3 linked regions of the Homo sapiens genome follow. The protein of the gene in region 2 interacts with the protein of the main gene of each other region in a biochemical or structural test. Each region holds a gene or a part of one and is shown on either strand. Other genes may lie near its edges.

Region 1 (7,034 bases), on a different chromosome or scaffold from region 2:
AAGTGTAACTAGATCTGTGATCAGTCTTAAATAATTCAACTGTAAGGGTTTTTTAGCACTTTTTTTTTTCCAGTCTGTTATATTTATAACCCAACAGTCTCCATTATCATGGCTTGGAATTTCACTCAGTGTTTTAACATGCGGAATGTTAACCCAAACACGAGCCTTAGCAAAAAAGTATCTTCTCAGTTGTGCAGCCTACCACTGTTAATGGCAAATAGGCACATGAGTGAATCACAAAATAACAGTTAACTGAGGGATTCAGCTGACAACTTTTCATACCCAGGATTTGATCTTTCCTGATTCAGATGGCAGAAGCTTGTGTTGTGATTACATAAACAATAAGAAGTCTGGATTTCATCCCTCTAACAACAGATTGACTTTCTGAAAGGGGAGAAAAGGCTTGTCGCTAGGCCACCATTACTCCCGCTAGCACGCAGTTCATAGGCCAACACTCACCTTAAGAAGTACTCCCTTTAGAGGGTGCTCCCAGTTAGAGCACATTTCTTATGCCATTCTATTCCATTCATTCAAGAAGACACTCACTGAGTGTCTATTCTAATACTTTAGAATGATTTCAGCAGTATCTTGGAAGTTTGGGAACCCGCATCAGGAATAGCTCAGGAGAGGATGTTTTGTCTTCCTGCCTGACAGGCATCACCAGCAATCAGAGTAGGGTGCCCTGTGCGTGACCTGACCCTTGTCTGTGTGGCCACCTGTGTGGTGCTGCCCTCTGGCAGCCTGAGCCCACTGGGCAGCAGTGTTGGCAACGTTGCAGAAGGCATCTGAACTCTAGGGCTGTCCTCACTGTTGACTTATTATTTTATTAGATTTATGCAGCAGCCTGCCTCCAAAGAAGAAATTTGGTGTGTTTTTTCATTGGGAAGTAATTCCAGACTGCAGGAAAAAAGCATTTAAAAAAAAAAAAACAAACCTCCACTGAGCGAGAGAAAGGGAGACTCTGATGAGAGACGTAGGAGCCATCAGGCTGTAAATAAATAAAAAGCACCTGGCTGGGCGCCAGCATACACGTCTCTGTCTCTGCTATGACCCAATTCAGGGATTCTCCCTGAGAGGAGGTTTTGAGCCTCTGATTTTATAATTTGGGTTTCTATGAAGCTGGATGTCTTGCCTGTGTACTGATAAGTAATATAGTCTGTCATCTTTTGTCAGCTAGGTAGGGATTGGAGTTTTTGAGAATGGTTTTTCACTCCAAACAGCTCAGAGGACCTGGGAGGGGTGGAAGGTGCACCGAGTGGGCTCTTGGAGGTCTGCTCACACGGCTTCACAGTGACTTCACAGGGTCTGCAGGAGCTCTCCTGAGTGGACCCCAGAGCCCTCTGCTAGGAATGGAGGGGAGTGGTTTGGTTTGAGGGCTTTTGTTTTGTTGTTTTCATTACTATTTTCTTGATAGAAGGGCGGGGGGGAGGGGGGGTGTTGCCCTTTACTCTAGTTCTTGCATTTGAATTGCTAACATCCTCTTTTCCCTTTTTTCTTCCTATTTTGATTTGGTTTCTCATTGCTCAATGTCTTCTCTTCCTGTCTCCTCCTTTCTTTCTCCCTATTTCTGTTTGTTTGCCTCTGTTTTGCTCAGGTGGCTTCGGTGCTGCTCCAGTGTTTGGCAGCCCTCCTACTTTTGGGGGATCCCCTGGGTTTGGAGGGGTGCCAGCATTCGGTTCAGCCCCAGCCTTTACAAGCCCTCTGGGCTCGACGGGAGGCAAAGTGTTCGGAGAGGGCACTGCAGCTGCCAGCGCAGGAGGATTCGGGTAAGCCCCCTGGGGAGGGCCCTTGGGAACCCACACGCCAGCCAAAAAGCACTAGGGGCCTGTACTCTTGCTCTGAAAAGAAATTTGACCATGAGGTGAAGGCCCCTCCCTTGAAATTTGTGAACAACTCCCTCAAGGATTCCTGTACCTCTCCAGGGTAAGACTCATTTCGTTCAAGCCAGGCTTTGTTGAATTCATGGTGGACCTCAGCTGTGTTGCTGTTCCCTGGTATGAGAAATGCTGGTCATCAGAGCCCCTGTTCTCCTGCTGGGGCTAAAGGAAGGCACCAGCCCTGCCTTAACTACTGCTTTGTAGCCAAGAGGTGCCCCGGTGTGGAGCTTCTGTTAGGAAGTCCTCAATGAATGGTTTTCACCAGATTCTTTCCTCTTGGGATTATTCTGTGTTAGACCCGTTGTCCTTGAACAAACAACTCCCTGTGTCCCCTGCTCCCCTGCAGCCCCCCAGAGTGAGTATTCAGTTGCACAGGTCCTCCCGTGGGAAGATCCTGGATGATCAGGGATTTCGAAGCTGCTCTCATTGCCTCGTGTGCGTCTGCACTGGAAAAGGCCATTTTTAGGGAGTCGCTTTTAAGGGCAGAATTTCAGTGTGGTTGCCAAAACCCCAAGGGAAAAAAACCTTCACCACACCACAACATCCCAATTTAAAAAATGTACACGGGATGACTACCAAGTCTCTTGTTCAAAGGAGGTGTCGATGCCTGAAAGGAGTTCTAAAACGCCTCTTGCCGCAGTACTGGGCTCAGCATGAGCTGAAGGTTTGGGGGAGGGGAGATGATTTTGTCTAGGGGAATTGTTGAGATACTTGGATCTGAGTCTTGGCAAGATGACAGCATCTTTATCTTGAAAATAAACTATAGTATGTTCTTACTCACACCCTTCCCCTCCGTGCAAGATGCTGGAGCGCAGCAGCAGGAGTGAGAGGGTTGGCGTGCTGCTTCTCCTGTTTCACGGGAGACTGATGCCTTAGGTTTGCCCTCAGGAAACCCCAAGAATTAAAGTTAAGGAAAGCTTTGAAAGGACAGTTAGAGACCCACTTAGGCTGGTATTCTCAGAGGTCTTAATGGATGCTGTTCTCTGCAGTGATGAACCAGCACACAGTACCACAGAGTTGGTAGAAGGTTTGGGTTGGCTGGGTATCTTGTGAATTGATTTATTTATTTGAAACCAGCTGTTTTCTTTACTAGTAGAAAAGTATATTCTGCCTTGGGGCGGCTCTCACACAAATCCCGATTGGCTGGTTAGTCAGTCCTAAAAAAGGTTAATGCCAGGTCAGTTATTAAATCTCCATAAGAGCCCATTACCTTCTTCCAGGTCCCTGGCCATGAGCCTGTCTCCGACCCTGAAGGGCAGGCTGTTGCTGATGAGGCCCAAGGCAGGAGGAGGAAGGGAGCAGGCCGCTCCTGGGAGAAAGTCCAATGAGAGCAGATCCCTTGGCCACCTTTGTATGGAAAGAGCCTTGACCTCACCATTAAAAGTGAATAGAATGGTGGGAAGGCAGAGTTTTAGATACTTTTTCTTGCTTTGGGGTTGATTCTTGCCCCCAGGTGCTGCCCCTTCTCCCAGAAACCACTGATCCGTTTCCCTCACCTAGTCACCTCCAGACCCCAGAAGCTCTCCCCAACCCAGCCGAGTTCCTCTGCAAACAATTCAAGGGGCTCTGATAGGTCACACAGTGCCACCTTGTGTGCTGGACCATATCTGGAGGGAGAACTGAGTGAGGGGGCACAGGGGATTGTCTCCAGGTGGGGCGAGCAGGGGAAGGAAAATAGTGGCCACTTTTACATTGGTTTGGGTAGTAATTATTGATTCAGGAAGCAAATACAAAATCCTGAATGAAATGACTTGGAAAAAGTAAATAGAATCAAGATCCCAAGAGGAGCTGAAGATAAATAAATGGGAGCAGGATGTGGGGGAATGGTCGGTAAGTGAGAAATGCTAAAATGATAGAATAAAGCTTAAGGATTGTTGGAGGTAGAGCAGGAACTGTGTACTGCATAGTTCCCAAATGCCCTGGTGTTCCAATGGGGGATGGAAACTAAAACACTGGCCAGGTTGGATTTCATACTGTAGTCCTGCCATTTTTCTTCCTAGAGCAGAGATAAAAGTTGGCCCTGGGCGATAGCTCATTCTCTCTGAAAGGCTGCTAGTTAGGCCCAGCCTGTCACCCTGGATCATGAGTGTCGTGTGTATTGGGACTTACAGCAGGGGGCTGAGGCTTGCAGATGGGCAAGTGGTGAGAGGCCCCACTGACCTCAGTCTGTTTCTCACTGGAGCGCAGGTTTGGGAGCAGCAGCAACACCACATCCTTCGGCACGCTCGCGAGTCAGAATGCCCCCACTTTCGGATCACTGTCCCAACAGACTTCTGGTTTTGGGACCCAGAGTAGCGGATTCTCTGGTTTTGGATCAGGCACAGGAGGTAAGCTGCCACAAGTTCTCCCCTCACAAGCAAAATGGGTCCCTCTTGCCTTCTCCCCCAAAGAAATGAGTATGTTTTACCTGACCAGTCTGTTTAGTATTTTAAAAGCTGACTGGGCACGTGGTTCACGCCTGTAATCCCAGCACTTTGGGAGACCAAGGCAGGAGGATCACTTGAGCCCAGGAGTTTGAGACTAGCCTGGGCAACATGGCAAGACTCCATTCTCTACAAAAAATGTTAAAATTCGCCAGACATGGTGGCACACACCTGTGGTCCCAGCTACTCGGGAGGCTGAAGCAGGAGGATCACTTGAGCGCTGCAGTGAGCTGTGATTGCACCACTGCACTCCAGCCTGGGTGACAGAATGAGACCCTGTCTCAAAATAAATAAATATGTAACATACTGAAAGTGGTTGAAACATATATATATATATATATTTTTGAGACGGAGTCTCGCTCTGTTGCCCAGGATGGAGTGCAGTGGCACAATCTCGGCTCACTATAAACTCCGCCTCCCGGGTTCACGCCATTCTCCTGCCTCAGCCTTTGAGTAGCTGGGTCTACAGGCGCCCGCCACCAGGCCCGGCTAATTTTTTGTGTTTTTAGTAGAGATGGGGTTTCACTGTGTTAGCCAGGATGGTCTCCATCTCCTGACCTCATGATCCACCCACCTCGGCCTCCCAGAGTGCTGGGATTACAGCACCTGGCATATATATTTTTTTTTAGGTTTTAGTTAGACTTAGAACACTGTGTCATTTCTTACCAAAGAAATTACTGTCTTGATTTCCTCTCAGGATTTGAGAAGCCCAAAATAATAATGGTCTTACTAGGCCTTGGTTTAAAAAATCTAAGCCAGCAGACTCAAAAAAAAAAAAAAAGGCATAGAAACTTCACAAAACATCTTGCATTTGTTTAACACTCTGCTTCTTCAGATGGCAGAATATGTGTCTTCCATTTTGTTCTTGCAGTAAACTGACAAGGCACAGAATTTAGGTATCATTACAATTGTACCCGTGAAGAAACAGAAACTCCAAGGAACTAAGTGTTAGCAGTTAGCAGTAGAACCAGGCCTAGAATCCAGCCATCTTGCTTCTCTGGCCCCCAAAAAGAAGAGGAAGCAAATGGATGGAAAAACAACAACAGCAAAAAAAAAAAAAAAAAAAAAAGGTTTTCCTAATGAATGGATCTATGTGGTCCAGTACAGCTGAGAGGCCAAGCCAGAGACCCTCTGCCTACAGCTGGGGCCGAGGAGGGAGGAAGAACCCTAAAATACCAAGAAGATAACTCATAAAAAGTAAAGGATTTTTTCTGCCTTCTGGGGGATCTGAGTAGCTCCAGAGGACAAACTCAGAATAAAGGGGCTTCTGTGTGTACCTTTCCTGCCTTCCTGTAGGTGGTGGAGGCACGGAGGGCTTCCCACAAGAAGCACAGAGGAGGGCAGACACTTAGCATGGGGACCACCTTTGTCTTTCGAGTGGATGCGTGCTTTAACTTCACTCTTATTCTGCTTTTCAGGGTTCAGCTTTGGGTCAAATAACTCGTAAGTATCCCCCTTTTTGAGTCTCACCTTAATTAAAAGCATTAAATAAGGTTGGAAGTGTGTGGATCTTGCTGGATTTGTGCATTTTCTTTTCGTTTTTTCCTGTTTTTAGAGTTTGTCCTGGAAGTGTGGGGGTTCAGCAGCAGGGTTTGGGTTTTGTGGACTTGCTCTTCTCTGTAGCAATATGGCAGGAGGTGCCAGGCCTCGCCTTCTTAAGAGGCGTGGTTCAAAGAGAAAAGAGCACGCCTGCCAGTGAGCTGGGCCTGAGGGCAGCGCTGAGGAGATGCTGCTCCTGACTTCCCTGGAGGTTTCTCAGAAGCTGCATGCTAACCCCTGGGCTCTGGGCCATCACCAGGTCTCATGTGTTGATCCACCCTCTGTGCTTCTGTGTAAAATTTCATGGCGTTAAAATTCAGTCTTAGCCAGGTGGGTGGTTCACGCCTATAATCCCAGCACTTTGGGAGGCTGAGGTGGGAGGATTGCTTGAGCCCAGGAGTCAAGACCAGCCTGGGCAACAGAGTGAGACCCCATCTCTACTAAAAATTAAAAAAATTAGCCGTGCATGCTGGCTTATGCCTGTGGTCCCAGCTACTCCAGAAGCTGAGGCGGGAGGATCACTTGAGCCTGGGAGGTTGAGGCTGCAGTGAGCCAAGATGGTACCACTACCGTCTAGCCTGGGTGACAGCCAGACCCTATATCAAAAGAAAAAAATATATATACTGGCCAAGCACGGTGGCTCACACCTGTAATCCCAGCACTTTGGCAGGCCAAGGTGGGCAGATATTTGAGGTCAGGAGTTCGAGACCAGCCTGGCCAACATGGTGAAACCCCATCTCTACTAAAAATATATATATATACATATATAGATAAACACACAAGAATTAGCCAGGCGTGGTGGTGCATGCCTGTAATCCCAGCCACTGAGGCTGAGGCAAAAGAAGCACTTGAGCCCGAGAGACAGAGGTTGCAGTGAGCTGAGATCACGCCACTGCACTCCAGCCTGGGCAATAGAGTGAGACTCTGTATCAAAAAAATAATAATAAAAAATCTGAGTCCTGACCTTTGCACACAGGCAGAGCAGCAGAGCCTGTGACTGCTCTGTGACAGAGCAGCTGACTCCACCACTGTCCTGTGCTTCCTTGCAGGTCTGTCCAGGGTTTTGGTGGCTGGCGAAGCTGAGGGCGTGTCAGCAGGCCTTTCGATCCCTGGGACCAACCGCATCCTCAGCTTCTTCCCCGAGAAATGCTGGAGCAGGCTGTTCAGACCGACGTTGCCATCAAAACACATACAC
Region 2 (3,845 bases):
CTGGAGTGCAGTGGCGCAATCTTGGCTCACTGCAACCTCCGTCTCCTGGGTTCAAGTGGTTCTCCTGCTTCAGCCTCCCGAGTAGCTGGGACTACAGGTGCGCACTACCACGCCCAGCTAATTTTTGTATTTTTAGTAGAGAAGGGGTTTCGCCATGTTGGACAGGATGGTCTCGATCTCTTGACCTCGTGATCTGCCCACCTCAGCCTCCCAAAGTGCTGGGATTATACGCATGAGACACTGTGCCCGGCCGTAGTTATTACTATTGTCCTTTCTGACCTGACCCTTCACCCCACCTGTGCTTCCCTTATACCCTTATATACTTAATCATTCCTCTCTGACTTGCTAGGATTCTTTATATCAAAGACCATGATTCAAGAAGCTGTTTGTAAACATAAAGCACTAGTGACCCTAAGGTGTTGTTGCTGTTCTTATTGCAGTGGACGGAAAGTCCCGGGATTCTTTGCGAGCCTTCACCCGGACATTCATTGCTGTTCCTGCTAGCAATTCAGGGTAAGTATTCTGCTTTTCGCATTGGATACCAGTCCTAATCCATGGCCAACAGTGTGGTAATTGGAGGGTAGAGTCAGTCTTTGGGGTGATTTCAGAAAGGCAACAGGAAATCAGAGAAAGCTCACATAGTAGTTAAGAGCCAGTTAATAGCTTGGCTCTGGAATTGTACCGTCTGGGTTTTCATCCTGGCTCCACCACTTCTAGCAAGTAGGCTGCTGCCTCATCTGAAAATTCATATAACAATATTCATTTCCTAAGTTTGTTGTGAGGATGAATTAAAAGAGCTAAAGTCCATGCGTTGGGAGAACCCTAGTGTGTTTAGTAGATAATCCTTCCAAACATTGATTCCATGGGAGGGGATAAATGATAAAAGGTAACAATAGCTAAGAGTGGGAGGGGGACCTTGTGGATATTGAAAGAATCAGAGAATAGGAATGATGTTGGGAGGATGATGTTATCTCTGTCTAGCTTTTTAAGTGCTCTTTGTCCTCAAGGCTATGTATTGTAAATGATGAGCTATTTGTGCGGAATGCCAGTTCTGAAGAGATCCAAAGAGCCTTCGCTATGCCTGCACCCACGCCTTCCTCCAGCCCGGTGCCCACCCTCTCTCCAGAGCAGCAGGAAATGTTGCAAGCATTCTCTACCCAGTCTGGCATGAACCTCGAGTGGTCCCAGAAGTGAGTGCGGGGCATGTGTAGGATGGGGATGCACTGAAGTAGGGCTAGTAGTAAATAATGAGGGCTCCTGACAGTTTTTTTGTTTTTTTTTTGGAGACAAGTTCTTGCGCTGTCATCCAGGCTGGAGTATAGTGGTGATCATAACTCACTGTAGCCTCTAATTCCTGGGCACAAGCTGTCCTCCCACCTCAGCCTCCAGAGTAGCTGGGCCTATAGGCATGTGCCACCTTATTTTATTTTATTATTTTTTTTTTTTGGAGGTGGAGTCTTGCTATGTTGCCCAGGCTGGAGTGCAGTGGTGCGATCTTGGCTCATTGTAACCTCTGCCTCCCGGGTTCAAGCAATTCTCCAATCTCAGCCTCCCGAGTAGCTGGGATTACAGGCACACACCACCATGCCTGGCTAATTTTTGTATTTTTTTTTTTTTTTTTTTTTTTTAGTAGAGACGGGCTTTCATCATGTTGGCCAGGCTGGTCTCGAACTCCTGACCTTGTGATCTGCCTACCTCGGCCTCCCAAAGTGCTGGGATTACAGGCATGAGGCACTGCACCCAGCCAAATTTTTATTTGCTTGTTTGTTTTGAGACAGGGTCTCACTCTGATGCCCAGGCTGGAGTACAGTGGTGTGATCACAGTTCACTGCAGCCTCAACTGCTAGGGCTCAGGTGATTCTCCCACCTCAGCCACCTGAGTAGCTGGGACTACAGGCATAGGCCACAGCACCTGGCTAATTTTTTTGTATTTCTTTGCAGAGATGGGGTTTCACCATGTTGCCCACCTAGGCCTCCCAAAGTGCTGCGGTTATAGGTGTGAGTTACTGTGCCTGGGCTCCTGAAATTTTAAAAGGCAAAACTTTTGGCTGCTTAAAAAAACCTAATAGTTGGCTGGGAGAGGTGGCTCACACCTGTAATCCCAGCACTTTGGGAGGCTGAGGCGGCCAGATCACGAGGTCAAGAGATCAAGACCATCCTGGACAACATGGTGAAATCTCGTCTCTACTAAAAATACAAAAATTAGCGGGGCTTGGCGTTCCACGCCTGTAGTCCCAACTACTCGGGAGGCTGAGGCAGGAGAATTGCTTGAACCTGGAAGGCGGAGGTTGCAGTGAGCCGAGATCACGCCACTGCACTCCAGCCTGGTGACAGAGCAAGACTCGGTCTCAAAAAAAAAAAAAAAGCAAACAGAAAAACACAAACCTGATAGTCTATAAAAAATTTGCCTGTGTATAAATTAACATAAAAAACTTTAAAGGTAAAATGGAAGTTCCTTTTCATATACTGTTCTGCAACTTAGTTTCTTTACTTACACCATGAACATCTTTCCCTACCACTGTAAAAACTATCTTGAGCTTCTTGACAGCTATTTAATATTCCTTATCTTTGAGAAGCCATTGGTAGAACATCTGGACTTTTACTAATGTCTCATTTGTATAAATAGTGCAAGGATGTATAAGAATGTACATATTTGTTGGCAAACTTGGGTGCTTTTATGGAGTGGACTTTCAGCTGGCATTTACGAGTCAGAGTTCTTACAGAGCTGCCTGTTCTTCCACTCCAGGTGCCTTCAGGACAACAACTGGGACTACACCAGATCTGCCCAGGCCTTCACTCATCTCAAGGTAAGGTCTGGAAATACAGTGGCAAAAAGACTAGGATCTCTGGGCCTCCAGGAGGTCAGGTTAGCTGAGTGGGGTTGCTGAGTGGCGAGGGTAGGCCTACCTCTACTGACCTTCATTTTTCTCCAGGCCAAGGGCGAGATCCCAGAAGTGGCATTCATGAAGTGATCGTAGTCATGCCTCAGAAGCAGTCCCCCCTGTAAATAGTCCTTGGATATTACCGTCTGGTTGTCGTCTGTCATCTCCTCCTGTCTGGCCCGAGGCCGCCCCGTGACTGTGACCGAGGGAGGGAGGGCTGCCTGATCCCTCTCCTCGCCTGCCTTCTGGAAGACTTCAGAAGATTGAGCCTCACTGGTGCCAGGAAGCCAAAGCTTACTTTGTAGAACTGACACTAAACTACCCGAAGGACTTAGGTGCTTTGTGTACTTAACCCCAGGACCTCCTTACTTTTTAATATAAAGAGTGATGTTGTATTTCGTGTTCTGCACTTTTTAATATAAAGAGTGATGTTGTATTTCGTGTTCTGCGTGCTGGATTGGTTGTCTCCTCCCAGCCCTGAGCGAGGGGGGCGGGCCCTCTAGCGGGGGCGCCCAGGGAGGGCGGAAGGCGGCTCTGCGGCAGGAAGCCCCACCCCGGAAGTCGGCTGGCCATGGCGGCGCCTTGGAGGCGATGGCCCACGGGGCTGCTAGCCGTGCTGCGGCCCCTGCTCACCTGCCGGCCCCTGCAAGGCACGACGCTGCAACGGGATGTGCTGCTCTTTGAGCATGATCGGGGCCGCTTCTTCACCATCCTCGGGCTGTTCTGCGCGGGCCAGGGCGTCTTCTGGGCTTCCATGGCTGTGGCAGCCGTGTCCCGGCCCCCGGTTCCGGTGCAGCCTCTGGATGCGGAGGTCCCAAATCGTGGCCCCTTCGACCTGCGCTCCGCGCTCTGGCGCTACGGTCTGGCCGTCGGCTGCGGCGCCATCGGTAAGACGTGGGCTGGCTTCCCACTGTGACAACGTGGGGTGGCGGGACACGACCTTCCCTATACAGGCAGGGAGAG
Region 3 (7,034 bases), about 59 Mb from region 2:
GTTCACGCCTGTAATCCCAGCACTTTGGAAGGCTGAGGCAGGCGGATCACCTGAGGTCAGGAGTTCGAGACCAGCCTGGCCAACATGACGAAACGGCATCTCTACTAAATATACAAAAGTTAGCCGAGTGTGGTGGCACGTTACCTGTAATCCCAGCTACTCAGGAGGCTGAGGCAGGAGAATCGCTTGAACCCAGGAGGCAAACGTTGTAGTGAGCCAAGATTATGCCACTGCACTCCATCCTGGGGTACAGAGCGAGACTGTCTCGAAAACAAAAACAAAAACAAAACAAAAAACAAAAAAAAAGGGGGGGAGTAGTAAAGCAAAAGCTTTTAGTAACCTAAAAGGCAGTACCTTTACCAGAGGTTTAGCCTTACAGTCAAAATAAACAGGAAGAAAGTGGAGTTTATGAATCAACAGCCCTAAGAATCTGACTCTGGCATGCCTTAAGATCCTCTCCTACTACATGTTGGTGTCCTGGTGAGCATAACCTTTTTTTAATGATTCATAATAAGTTCATACAAGATCAATCCCAAAGATAAATTCTCACTGTACAAATGCACAAAGACCATAAATAGTACCAGACGGAGGCTGGATGTGGTGGCTCACGCCTCTAATCCCAGCACTTTGGGAGGCTGAGGCAGGAGGGCTGCTTGACGCCAGGAGTTTGAGACCAGCCTGGTCAACATACAGACCCCATCTCTATTTAAAAAATAAAAAGAAAAGAAAACAGGAAGCTACCAGGCTAAATGTGTAGTGACAGTGGAATGCAACAAGCCCTTTATATAGCTTACTGATTCTGGCTTTTCCTGTGATTTGTTCCTTATAATCCCAAAAGTGGCAAAACTCTTCAAAATAAATCCAGTCGATGGCTCCAATTAGTTGGCTTTGGATAAATTAGGTTCCAACAATCAAGGTTTGAATAAGGATCTGATCATATTAGATTAAGCTGAACTATGCCATCCTGTATTCTTATCAAGACTTTATGGCCAGGCACGGTGGCTCATGCCTGTAATCCCAGCACTTGGGAGGCCAAAGTGGGTGGATCACTGGAAGTCACGAGTTTGAGACCACCCTGGCCAACATGGCGAAACCCTGTCTCTACTAAAAATAAAAAAAAAGACAACTAGCTGGGCATGGTGGCAGGCACCTGTAATCCCAGCTACTCAGGAGGCTGAGGCAGGAGAATCGCTTGAACCCAGGAAGTAAAGGTTGCAGTGAGCTGAGATCGTTCCACTGCACTCCAGCAGTCTGGTAAACACACAGACAGACTCTGTCTTAAAAAAAAAAAAAAAAAAAAAAAAAGATTTATATCTAGGCAGTCATTAAGTACTTGCTGAATTGCCTCATTAGTGAAAGGGAACTTAAAGAAGTAAATATATGCATATAAATTCCTTTTAAAAAGCCAGTGAGTACCTCAACCCAGAAATTCAACTTCTATATATTTATTTGAATGAATTGATATAGAACATATTTTATAGCAATTCAGAGTACTGTTTATAGTTTTAAAAAAAGTCTCAATGTGAAGGAAGAAATTTACTACTATGGTACATTTATACATAAAAGAATGCTAAGAAGTATTTGATAATTATCTGTATTACAGGGCATTTGTAATGTGCCACATGAAAAGAACAGAATATAATACACAGCAGGATATCACCTTTGAAAAGTTCACAAGCATATGTCACAGTGTCTGGACATATTTGTATGTATTACAAAGTAAAGAATTAAGTACAAATTGCACATTAAAATGTTTGCAGTGAGTAGTAGTCACAGGATTTGGGTGATTTTGATTGATAGCTTATCTATGCTTTCTAGTTTTATTACAAATGTAATATAAAATTTAAATTTTAATCAAGTAAACAATGTTTAAGGTCCTAAAAAAAGAATTAGAAGACATAGTTCGGCTGGGTGCAGTGGCTCACACCTGTAATTCCAGCACTTTGGGAGGCCAAGGTGGGTGGATCACCTGAGGTCAGGAGTTCGAGACCAGCCTGACCAACATGGTGAAACCCTGTCTCTACTAAAATACAAAAATTAGCCAGGTGTGGTAGCAGGCACCTGTAATCTCAGCTACTTGGGAGGCTGAGGCAAGAGAATCGCTTGAACCCAGGAGGAGGAGGTTGCAGTGAGCCGAGATCGCACCATTGTACTCCAGCCTGGGCAACAAGAGTGAAACTGTCTCAAAAAAAAAAAAAAAAAAAAAAAAAAGTCATGGTTCCTATTCTATAGGAATAGGTGGGTGTGATCTACCCACCTTGGCCTCCCACAGTGCTGGAATTACAGGCATGAGCCACTGAGCCCAGCCGCACTATGTCTTCTAATTCTCTGTTTAGGACCTTAAACATTGTTTACTTGATTAAAAGTTAAATTTTATGTTATATTACATATTCCACGGGAACCAGCAATCTTTCTGGGAAGTCCGCAATTAATACTCATAGGCTAGAAGCCAAAGGGAAATGCACAATTAGCGGGGAGCGGTAGGAGGCAGTGAGTAGGAAGGCGACAGAGGCGCAGAGAAGGACCATATGCCTTCCCCACCTGACTGCTGGGCCAGAGAGCAGGCCTCACTGATCCTTTTGCCTGTGAGGTAGCTGAATACAGCCTCCACAGGGCTGTTTTTTTGGGTTAAGGAGACTTCCTCTTCAATCTGAGGTGTGGCAGTACAGGATAGCCAGCGGGAGAAAGCTCTTCTTCGCTCCAGAATTTGAATGTATTCACGGGGTTCATTTAGCTGGCTGTCAAGCTCCTTCAGGTGGCCCCATAGGGCTTCACATAGTGTCCATGTCAGGCTCCAGTGCTTCACAACTAAGGCAGGAAGAGAAAAACAATGTTACGAGACAAAGTCTTACAACAACTTCACAGAGGGCATCCTTCTAACTGTGATGTTAAAAATACATAAATTAATAGACATCTCAAACAACCACTCAAGCTGATTACCCTGAATCTGTCTCTACCTCACTCAACTTCGTCTTACAATTTCCAGAAGTACATAGTATAAATAAATGCTTGCTCATATCATGTTTCTGTGGTACTTACATAACAAATGTAACCGTTAAACAGGTTCCCCAAGCCTAATTATGGCTAGTGTCATCTCAGATGATATCTACTTTGATCAAATTCTGTCTATAAAAATCAATCTACAAAAGTACTGTTTATCATTTAAGCCACTTACAAGTATGCACTGGTAAAATAACTTACACATTTGAAAAGACAATGAGACGATTAAGTAAATACAAAGAACTGAAGGAACATAAACAAATCTCAAAACGTGTGGCATAGGACATTCTAAAACAGCCCATTTTTCAATAAACGTGATTTGCTAAACAAAATGATTTTTCTACTGTTTGAAATATTAATAAATTAGATAACCCCTTTATCAAAGTATTGATTCAGAAAAACATGGTCATGATAGATGAGAAAGGTAATCTTGAAAGAAGCCAGGAAGAGGAATTACAACAAAGCTGTTGAGAAGACCAACAGTACTTGAGCTGGATATGGAAGAATGGATAGGATTTAGAAAAGCAAGAAGGGGCCGGGCTCGATGGCTCACGCCTGTAATCCCAGCACTTTGGAAAGTCGAGGCAGGCAGATCACGAGGTCAAGAGATCGAGACAATCCTGGCCAATATGGTGAAACCCTGTCTCTACTAAGAATACAAAAATTAGCTGGGTGTGGTGGCGCGCGCCTATACTCCCAGCTACAGTGACAGAGTGAGACTCCGTCTCAAAAAAAAAAAAAAAAAAAAAGTAAAGCAAGAAGGAATGTATTTCTCTCCCTATGTTCTCTGGATTAGGTAAGAAATTCAATTTTATAAATCCAAGGATTTGACTTGCTACAGTTCTTTGTGGAAGAATTTGTACATTAATGGGTAAAAGAACAAAGTGACAAGAACATAGTGACAATTTCTTCTTGCTTGGGAATCTGCTTAGTTAAACTCAACCTCAGAAAATGACAAGCACAGGCATTTACCTACTAGACTGGTGCCAGGAAATTCATCCTCCCGTGAACATACGCTACCACCACTATTATTGGGACATCAAACATTAGAAACATAGTGTGTACTCACTTTGTGCTTCTGGTAAGTCTCCTGATGCTTCTTTAACCCAATCTGCATAGTCATGAATGACAGCAACTCCCAGATTGGGGACAATGAGAGGACACAGTTCATCCACATGGACAGTGCTGTGTTTTAATTTGAGCTCCAGAGGTGTCTGATATAATTTCATGTCTTCATCTGGCTTTCTTTGTCTCAAACTGAGTTTTTCTAAGTGAACTTTGAATGGGGACTCAGTTAGGCTACAAGAGCAAATGAGGAATAGAATAGAAAATGAACCTAAGACAGAAGCTAGGATTTTTACTTCAACCAAACCACTGTTTCTTTTTATGATTACAAACGGAATGCAAACATTTCACTGTAGTTTTAAAGAAATTTTGTTTCTTAAACTATACTGAACTTATCTGCTATATACTGGGGAAAAAAAATCATCTGATCAGTGCATTCAGAACACAAAGGCTTCTTAGGCCAGGTTATAACAAGCATGAGAATCCTAACAGATTTAGAACTGGCTAAAACTCAAGGGCCAAAAGCTATTGTGGGATACCTGTTTCTCAAATTATACTTGGGTATCAAAAGTCATGAGGCTAAGCTTCTAGATACTAAAGAACTGATTCTAAATTACAATGAGCATATAGCTAAGCTAGGCTTGTTCCAATTTTTTTTTTTTTTTTTTTTTTGAGATGGAGTTTCACACTGTCGCTGAGGTTGGAATGCAGTAGCGTGATCTTGGCTTACTGCAACCTCTGCCTCCTGGGTTCAAGGGCGATTCTCCTGCCTCAGTCTCCTGAGTAGCTGGGATTACAAACATGCACCACCACCCTGGGCTAATTTTTGTAATTTTAGTAGAGACAGGGTTTTACCATGTTGGCCAGGCTGGTCTCGAACTCCTGACCTCAAGTGATCCTCCCAAAGTGCTGGGATGACAGGTGTGAGCCACCGTACCCGGCCCCTTGATCTAATTTTTAAGATTGATATTAATAACCTTCAAAATTCACAAGATAATGCTTAACCTAGAATAACTAAGTTTAGGATCAGTATTCTTAATTGTGAGGTTCAAGAGACATTGTTGTTTTTTCTTTTTCTTTTCTCTCTTTTTTTTTTTTGAGACTGAGTCTCATTCAGTTGCCCAGGCTAGAGTGCAATGGCGCGATCTCAGCTCACTGCAAGCTCCGCCTCCCGGGTTCACACCATTCTCCTGCCTCAGCCTCCTGACTAGCTGGGTCTACAGGCGCCTGCCACAACGCCCAGCTAATTTTTTTTGTATTTTTAGTAGAGACAGAGTTTCACCGTGTTAGCCAGGATGGTCTCAATCTCCTGACCTCGTGATCCGCCCATCTTGGCCTCCCAAAGTGCTGGGATTACAGGTTGTTTTTTATTTTTTCAAAGTCAACTTTAAAAATGAAGGATAGGCTGGGCAAGGTGGCTCATGACTGTAATCCCAGCACTTTGGGAGGCCAAGGTAGGACAATCACTTGAGCTCAGGAAACATTAGCTGGGTGTGGTGGCGTGTGCATGTAATCCCAGCTTATCAGGAGGCTGAGGCAGGAGAAGAGCCTCAGACTGAGAGGCAGAGGTTGCAGCAAGCTGAGATCGTGCCACCGCACCCCAGCCTGGGAAACAGAGCAAAACTGAGACTCAAAAACACACACACACACACCGGGGAAACAGAGCAAAACTGAGACACACACACACACACACACACACACACACACACTCTCTCTCTCTCTCTCTCTCTCTCTCTCTCTCTCTCTCTCTCTCTCTCTCTCTCTAGAAAGATGACAAAGCAGGGCCCTATCCTCCTGATTAGTTTTTTTCACCTATCATGTTGCCTTTCTCAAAAAGCATCAAGAAATGTGACTCACGGTTTAACAGCTACTGGATTGGGCAGGAATCCAAACTCCATGGAATCGGCAATCTGATGATTTTCTAGTTCATGAGAGCCATTCAGCTGTTCTCCACTATTAGCAAGAGTCCAGTTGGGGCCCCAACCAACACGAAATGAGCGTCCCATGAATAGGGCCATGTCCATCAAGAGTTTTCCCTTGCCATAGGTGACAGACTTTTCACGAGGGACTAGGCCTAGTTGCCTACGTGTACCCACTGTTTTCAACGGAACCTCAGGGGCTGGGCTGGGCATTGTGAACACAGAAGTCAGGGGTGGAGGGACAGACCAAGAGGATGTGGATGGGATATTCATTAAAGATGCTGCTCTGGGAGTACGACATTCTTGCACAGAGACACTTGGTGAAAGAAAAGCTCCACTTGTAAATTTTGATTGTAGTAACCCACCAACTGAAATGAAGCGGGAATGAAGGGGAGAAAGACTATTACAAAACACAAGCTATTGTTTCTTGAACAATAACAAAAATCAGTAAGGCTGAAATCATTCAATGTTTAATCAAACTACTTATATCAGATGTGGATGACCAGAAGCAGGCTAAGTCAGATTTTGCAGAAATTACTCTTTGAACTAGGAAATCAGGACAAGATTCTAATGATGATGATGATATCTACAACAATAATAAAAGCAACAACACTATTAATATTATTTAAAAATATGCAGCAGGCTCTGTATAAGTCATTTGTATATGTTATTTCATTTCACTCTTCAAAAACTTTTTTTTTTTTTTTTTGGAGACAGAGTCTCGCCCTGTAGCCCAGGCTAGAGTGCAGTGGCATGATCTTGGCTCACTGCAACCTCTGCCTCCTGGGTTCAAGCAATTCTCTGCCTCAGCCTCCCGAGTAGCTGGGATTACAGGTGCCCGCCACCATGCCTGGCTAACTTTTCTGTATTTTTAGTAGAGACAGAGTTTCACCATGTTGGCCAGGCTGGTCTTGAACTCCTGACCTCGTGATCCACCTGCCTCAGCCTCCTAGAGTGCTGCAATTACAGGCATGAGCCACTGCACTTGGCCTCAAAAACTTTTAAATGATTAGCATTATTATCATTCCTATTGTATATATGAGAAAACTG

What was found. The genes of interacting proteins can lie anywhere in the genome.
Region 1: the proteins of NXF1 (region 2) and NUP214 form a complex in vitro, tested with the Homo sapiens proteins (4 studies listed by BioGRID and IntAct).
Region 3: the proteins of NXF1 (region 2) and NUP98 form a complex in vitro, tested with the Homo sapiens proteins (5 studies listed by BioGRID and IntAct).

What each region holds. Positions count from the first base shown.
Region 1 is NC_000009.12:131,226,566-131,233,599, forward strand, and holds part of NUP214 (nuclear pore complex protein Nup214), read left to right. Parts: intron 1-1,594; coding exon 1,595-1,766; intron 1,767-4,064; coding exon 4,065-4,204; intron 4,205-5,718; coding exon 5,719-5,743; intron 5,744-6,888; coding exon 6,889-6,922; 3' UTR 6,923-7,034. UniProt on the Homo sapiens protein: Part of the nuclear pore complex. Has a critical role in nucleocytoplasmic transport.
Region 2 is NC_000011.10:62,791,603-62,795,447, reverse strand, and holds the end of NXF1 (nuclear RNA export factor 1), read left to right. Parts: intron 1-440; coding exon 441-513; intron 514-1,007; coding exon 1,008-1,190; intron 1,191-2,676; exon of another isoform or gene 2,677-2,746; coding exon 2,747-2,807; intron 2,808-2,933; coding exon 2,934-2,972; 3' UTR 2,973-3,318; downstream 3,319-3,845. Other genes in the region: TMEM223 (transmembrane protein 223), read left to right, coding at 3,454-3,769.
Region 3 is NC_000011.10:3,696,541-3,703,574, forward strand, and holds part of NUP98 (nuclear pore complex protein Nup98-Nup96 isoform 1 precursor), read right to left. Parts: intron 6,353-7,034; coding exon 5,923-6,352; intron 4,300-5,922; coding exon 4,070-4,299; intron 2,809-4,069; coding exon 2,542-2,808; intron 1-2,541. UniProt on the Homo sapiens protein: Plays a role in the nuclear pore complex (NPC) assembly and/or maintenance. NUP98 and NUP96 are involved in the bidirectional transport across the NPC. May anchor NUP153 and TPR to the NPC.